Regions from separate parts of the Homo sapiens genome. Here region 2 is reported to be linked to region 1. Evidence: microRNA targets listed by miRTarBase, many of them from high-throughput screens and not tested one by one. Region 1 holds a microRNA gene; the other region holds the end of a gene's coding sequence.
Evidence for each region. The annotated mature microRNA hsa-miR-376a-5p reads GUAGAUUCUCCUUCUAUGAGUA and lies in region 1 at 1,964-1,985, shown strand. An mRNA with a match to its seed (bases 2 to 7 or 8) in the 3' UTR can be bound and repressed. Matches are read on the target gene's strand: a 7mer-m8 pairs with bases 2 to 8, a 7mer-A1 pairs with bases 2 to 7 and ends in A, and an 8mer does both.

Region 2: miRTarBase lists SMPDL3A as a target of hsa-miR-376a-5p. The part of its 3' UTR that is shown has no 7-base or 8-base seed match.

The regions. Positions count from the first base shown.
Region 1 is chr14:101,038,825-101,042,124 of GRCh38, forward strand. MIR376A1 (microRNA 376a-1) reads left to right here and starts at 1,958; the gene lies at 1,958-2,025. MIR376C (microRNA 376c) reads left to right here and starts at 866; the gene lies at 866-931. MIR376A2 (microRNA 376a-2) reads left to right here and starts at 1,245; the gene lies at 1,245-1,324. It overlaps MIR654 (microRNA 654), which reads left to right and starts at 1,395; the gene lies at 1,395-1,475. It also overlaps MIR376B and MIR300.
Region 2 is chr6:122,808,986-122,812,270 of GRCh38, reverse strand. It overlaps SMPDL3A (sphingomyelin phosphodiesterase acid like 3A), which reads right to left. Exons shown (of 8, transcript NM_006714.5): 8 at 2,551-3,180. The coding sequence ends at 2,863. Among named protein-coding and RNA genes, the nearest start is that of SMPDL3A, 21 kb to the right of the region's middle.

The DNA of each region.
Region 1 (3,300 bases):
TCTGGAAGATTCTTGGGTGTCCTTCTCCCTCCAAGGTATGTGAAGGATGCTCCAGCCCACAGTTACATGACATTGGTCATTAGGTGCCTTGGGAGGGCTTCATGGAGGCGATGTGACTTTAGGAACCTGACAGGCTTATTTTCTTTTTGTTTTTGATATTTTTCGAATTCAAAGCATAGAATCCCTACTTTGCCTGCTTTACTTGTGGCAAATTTTTGATGTACATTCACTTTTTTTTTTTTTTTTTTTCAGAATTAAATGCTACTTTGGAAACGCTCTTGACCATGAAGCCTCCATTAGGGAAGAGACATTAGGGTTACCCCCACCCAGACGAGTGACAGCAGGGCAGACCCCAAACTTACGTTTGCCTGCATAGGAGTTCCATCTCTGGATGTGAAGAGGCCAGGGGTGGGCCCTGCGCTTCCCACGTGGGACTCGCAAAGTGCTCACCTGCTTCTGTTACCTTCTGTCTTTCATGAATCATGTTTGCGTTTGTGCTCTCCAGGGCTGTTCCCACTTTTCCCATCTAAAAGGTGGATGTTCCTTCTATGCTTACAGGATTTATGGTGAATCATAGAGGAAAATCCGCATTTTCAGTATCTAAGGCTGCTTTTAAAACATTTCTGAACATTTCTGAGAGGAAGGTTAGCTCCCTCCCCCATGCGGAGAGTGATGGAAGGTGAATCCCAGAACCTAAGCTCTTGTTAGCAAGGTCTGTCCTGGGACATGCGTCCTCCGCAGGGCCCATGTCACTGCCGCTAGCCCGGGAGGCCCCTGCCGACTGCACCTATCCTGTGCTGTCTTTAATTTTGATAGATTGTGCTTAGGTTCATGCTTTCCAGGACTCAATCCTTCTTTGGTATTTAAAAGGTGGATATTCCTTCTATGTTTATGTTATTTATGGTTAAACATAGAGGAAATTCCACGTTTTCAGTATCAAATGCTGCTTGGAAACATTCCTGGACTGAAACCACCATCAGGGAAGAGACAATAAAGTCCCCCCCCCCACTCCAGGGTAAGTGGAAAGTCGGTGGACCTCAGAACATGTGCTGAATTCGTGCCATATGTCTGCGGACCACCCACCCGCCTTGAGGAGACCCCTCTCGCAAGCTGCCCGCTCGGCCAAGCGGCTGGGCTCCGTCGTCATTTTCTCCATGAGGCCGAATGCTCTCCTCTGTGCTATGTTACTTTTGTGTTTGATGGATTGTACTTAGGTTCGTGCTTTCCGGGATGAAACCTTCTTTGGTATTTAAAAGGTAGATTTTCCTTCTATGGTTACGTGTTTGATGGTTAATCATAGAGGAAAATCCACGTTTTCAGTATCAAATGCTGCCTTGGGATCATGGCTGGACTGAAGCCACCATCAGGGACGTGAGGTGGGGCTGAGCCCTCCAGGGTAAGTGGAAAGATGGTGGGCCGCAGAACATGTGCTGAGTTCGTGCCATATGTCTGCTGACCATCACCTTTAGAAGCCCCCTTTCGCTGAGGAGCCAGCTTGGTGCACAGGCTGTGGTGTGTTGTCACAGCTATGCTACGGGACTGAAAACGGTTGCTTTACTGTCTTGCTTCCATTTTCCATGAACTGTGTTCAGATTTGTCCTTTCCAGAGCCCAGTCCTTCTTTGGTATTTAAAACGTGGATATTCCTTCTATGTTTACGTGATTCCTGGTTAATCATAGAGGAAAATCCATGTTTTCAGTATCAAATGCTGCTTTGGAAATGTTTCTGGAAGAGACCGTAGGGCCTGAGTAGGTGCAAAGATGGTAGGCCGCACGTCGTATCTGAATGAACGGGGTATGCCCGAGAACCATCTCGAGACGCCAACTTGGTGAAGATTAAATTGTGGGTCTCGTGGTGCCAGTTCTTCCCTGGAAGCTCGTCTGCCTCATGTGACTTTCTTTTCTGATGACTCAAGCACAGGTGCACGCTTTCCTGGATGGAATCCTTCTTTGGTATTTAAAAGGTAGATTCTCCTTCTATGAGTACATTATTTATGATTAATCATAGAGGAAAATCCACGTTTTCAGTATCAAATGCTGCTTTGAAAACCTCGGAGGACGTGAAGTCGCCATGGAAGAGGAGATGTTATCTGTACCCCTCCTGGGTACAGGACGGACAGACACAGAATTGTACTTTGTATGAAATACGCCGTCAGCTTCTCTGCTGTTTGCTCACTGCCCTTGGTGCACACATAATGTGTTGTTACAAGGCTGTGTTCTCAGTATTGCCTCATTGACCTTGAATGAAGTTTGTTCTCTGTATGTTTACCATGATTGCAATGCATTTTCTGGAATGAACCTCTTTTACTGTGACTAGTTGTACCTTAGAGAATACCTGAGTGGGCTGTCAATTTCAGGAAGGGGCACTGCTTCAGGGGCTATGGAAGGAATAGATGTGTGATTCACCCACGGGCCTGCACTTCACACCTCGGTGTGCTGCTCTCACCATGCAGATCCCATCTGTGTCTCTAAGGCTTGCTCCTGGAGCTGGTGGCAACTTAGTCACAGAGGAAATGGCCTTCCTGTCACTGCCATCATTTGCTACTTGAAGAGAGGTAATCCTTCACGCATTTGCTTTACTTGCAATGATTATACAAGGGCAGACTCTCTCTGGGGAGCAAATCCTGCCTGGGAAGCCTTCTTGGGAACAAGGCTGACTCCAGCAACCTGTTAGATGGCCAGGATAGCCCTGGGGTGTGGATGGTTGACCACAGGGCATGTGCCTCTGTCTTGCTGTTTGTGACCTGGTTCTCTGACCCTCCTCATCTCATGCTTCCTTCCAAGAACTTTCTGGAAGAGATGCTGGCTTTGGAGATGATATAGGGTTTTCTCTTCAGACCACCTGTTCTGCCTAGCAAAAAGGGCCTACCTTGGCCGGGCACGGTGGCTCACGCTTGTAACCCCAGCCCTTTGGGAGGCTGAGACGGTGGATGGCTTAAGCCCAGGAGTTCGAAACTAGCGTGGGCAACTTGGCGAAACCCCATCTCTGCAAAAAATACAAAAATTAGCTGGGTGTCATGGTGTGCGCCTGTGGTCCCAGTACTTAGGAGGTTGAGGCTGGAGGATCACTTGAGCCCGGGAGTTGGGAGGTTGTAGTGAGCCAAGATTGTGCCACTGCACTTCAGCCTGGCTGACAGAGACCCCTGTCTCAACACAATAGGTTAAAAAAAAAAGAAAAGAACAAAGGGCCTCCCTTGATGGGCCCTACTTATCACAAAGCATCCATGGGCTGCTACTCCGGCAGGTCTGCCCAGCATGATGCCAGCCTCTGAGAAGAGGTCTCGTGGTCAGTGCATCTCCC
Region 2 (3,285 bases), not on the chromosome of region 1:
TATTCTCTTCACTTTTACTCCCCCAACTCCCCCCACTTTTTTTTTTTTTGAGAGGGAGTCTCCCTCTGTTGCCCAGGCTGGAGTGCAGTGGCAGGATCTTGGCTCACTGCAAACTCCGCCTCCTGGGTTCATGCCATTCTCCTGCCTCAGCCTCCCAAGTAGCTGGGACTACAGGCACCCGCCACCACGCCCAGGTGATTTTTTGTGTTTTTAGTAGAGATGAGGGTTCACCGTGTTAGCCAGGATGGTCTCGATCTCATGACCTCGTGATCTGCCCGCCTCAGCCTCCCAAAGTGCTGGGCTTACAAGTGTGAGCCACCGCTCCCGGCCCCCTTTTTTCCTACCAATATATGGTTAATGTTCATTCAAAACCATCTTCAAAGTAGCAGTGTCTATATCTAAACAGGATACAGTTTATGAATTTGCCAAAGCACCACCAATAAACAGAGGCAAATTAAGATAAGTTTTACTGTGGACATAATAAAATTCATAATTTATTTGAACATAATCTGAAATAAACCACAATAAATAATTGTAACATGCTCTGGTTTTACAATGGAAACATCAATTTAACTGTTGATAATGTCCCTAAATGTCACTCAGATTTTAAAATCATTTATATTTCAAGAGGAAAGTAAACTGAATACAAAAATGTGTAATTAAAAATGTAAAAACTCTAGAATAAAGTAGGATAGACCCTAAATATTCACTGCCCCAAACCCCCAACAGATGCAGAAATTTTCTCCACAATAACGCTGCAACCATTTCCAGTGCTCGGACTCATTTTCCAAGTCAGCTAAAACCATATCTGCTTTTCACTGTTTCTAAATTTTCCTACATGTTGCAAATTTGTTTTCTTAGAACCTCTGTCCGTAAGTATAAGAATAGATGAAGATTGTATATTTCTAACTAACTAAAATAGTATAATTGGATTGTTTGTAACACAAAGGATAAATGCTTGAGAGTATAGATACCCCATTTTTCATGTGATTATTACGCATTGCATGCCTGTATCAAAATATCTCATGTACCCCATAAATATATACACCTACTATGTACTCAGGAAAATTAAAAATTAAAAAAGTATGAATACACAATCTAGTCATCTGAAAATACCAACTTTAAATATTATTGCAGGCATGAAGTTTTCTAAATGATGTGACTACTTTATAACAAAATTTGCTTTGTTTCAGCATTCTCACTTTTAAAACATACTAATTTGTTTGTTGAAAACTAAAAAGTAAAAATTTTAAAAGAAAGTTTACCTAATGAATCATGATTGTTTCCTAGATATGATATCTTTGTTTTGTAATACTTATTTTATTAGCTCTCTGGAAATCAGGATAATTTGGTTTCATTATTATGCAATGTTACATCAAAAAGTCATTTTAATACATGAAGTCAAGCCAGTCACAAGGATGATGAGTTCCATTCTCCTCAATCTAAGGTTGCTCATTTTATGTCTTGACAAAGACTCTCTCTTTTGACCAAAACTTTAGTCAGGCTCCTCCAATTCCTCTGCTTGACTAGGCCAACATTGGGCTTCCTTTGTTCTTGCAGGATCCAGTTTGAGCAAGAATCCTGTTAAGTTGGCTTAGGGAGAATGCCCCACCCTTGGTATCTGACCGCCCTTGATATCCTATCACACTGGCCTGCCTTCGGCAATAATCCTATCAAGTTGGTATAGCCAGAAACGTCTTACCTTTGATGTTTTTCCTCCTGGTAATAGCCAGAAACCTCTTACCTTTGATGTTTTTCCTCCTGGTAATTTTCCATTCACTGATCCCCACTCTGCTCCTTGGTTATAAATCCCCACTCAGCCTTGTTGAAGTCAGAACTGAGTCCACTCTCTCTCCCTCACTGCAGGATTCCATTGCAGTGGTCCCTATACCTACCACTATGGCCTACCTTGGATAACATCTGCCTTAACATCTTTAACAAGTGTCATGATGAGCTTTTTTTCTTTAACAGTCTTCTCCACTATGCCAGTGTTGGGATATACAATCTTCTCTTCCTTTAAATCCCCCAGTCCCTCCCACTCTCCCTTCCATTTCTACTTTAATTCTCCTACTTAACCTGAAAGCAGAAAACAGCTTGAGCCATTGGAGTCCTAAAAACAATCCCATTAAATAAAAGGCTCATTTTTATCCTATCCTGGAATACTGTGACAAAGAAAATGCCACCACTGTAATCTAGGACGTTTCTTTGAAAAATATTCACAGCTTTCAATTCATTTCAACAATTATTTACTAGGTGCCAGGCACTGGACTAGGACCCAGGCCTTGTGCTAGTACTGCAGATACAATAAGTATGTGTGACATTCTCATCCTTAAAAGTTAGCAATGCCAAAGACTCAGAATGAAGAAAGCTAGGCAATACATGCCCTGTGATGTTTCAGCATGCTCCTAATGACCATGGTATTTTCCCAAGAGTAGATAGTGCATGTAAACAGTGGTAACATCTGTTTACATATGAGAGGTAAACAATTTGGACCTCAGTTAATACACAGATTTTAACTAAAAATTATCATGTTAAGAAAACTTCATCATATTTAGAGATAAAGAATTCGCTTTATTGTATAAATGACAATTTCAACAAGGGTACAAATTAGATATAATTATATAAACTGAATATTTACATCCAATTTACATCCATCATTCTATTAATGAGCACTTTAAATATATAATACAATTCAGAATGATAAAGATATCTACATTAAGGCATCAAAAAGAAAAAAAAAAAGAAAGCAAAGACAGGAAGTCTACTTGCCCACTCAGTAATTAACAAAGATTTATGTAAAATTCCCACAAATTGATCTCAGAATCAGAATCAGCATTTTCTATTAGCAAAAACTGTGAAATACTAGTAATTGTGCTTTATATAAAGCTGTTTGAGGCAATCTGCATAGGAAATATTATCAAGATTCATAATTGCACAAATCTGAAAGGCCTTACATGTCTTATCACATGTTACACTGCTGTCATAACTCACAAAGAAGTAATTGTAGTATTTTATAAACTGCTTACTGTCTAGGATTGTAAATTGTTTAGCTAATCCATATAAACTTTCCGGCTGCAAATCTTCAATGTCGTAGGTCTGGGTCAGGATATACTCCAGCTTCCAGATGGACTCTCCCTTTAGATTCGCCTCTGTCAGATTCAAGTAATACTGCAACATATCCTGCAGTTAAGAACAGTAACAAAACCTGGTTCACTTTTTGGCACATAAGGCATTGTACAACAAGAAGCGTTCATGTTTAAATTTCTGTGACATTTTAGGCTTGGC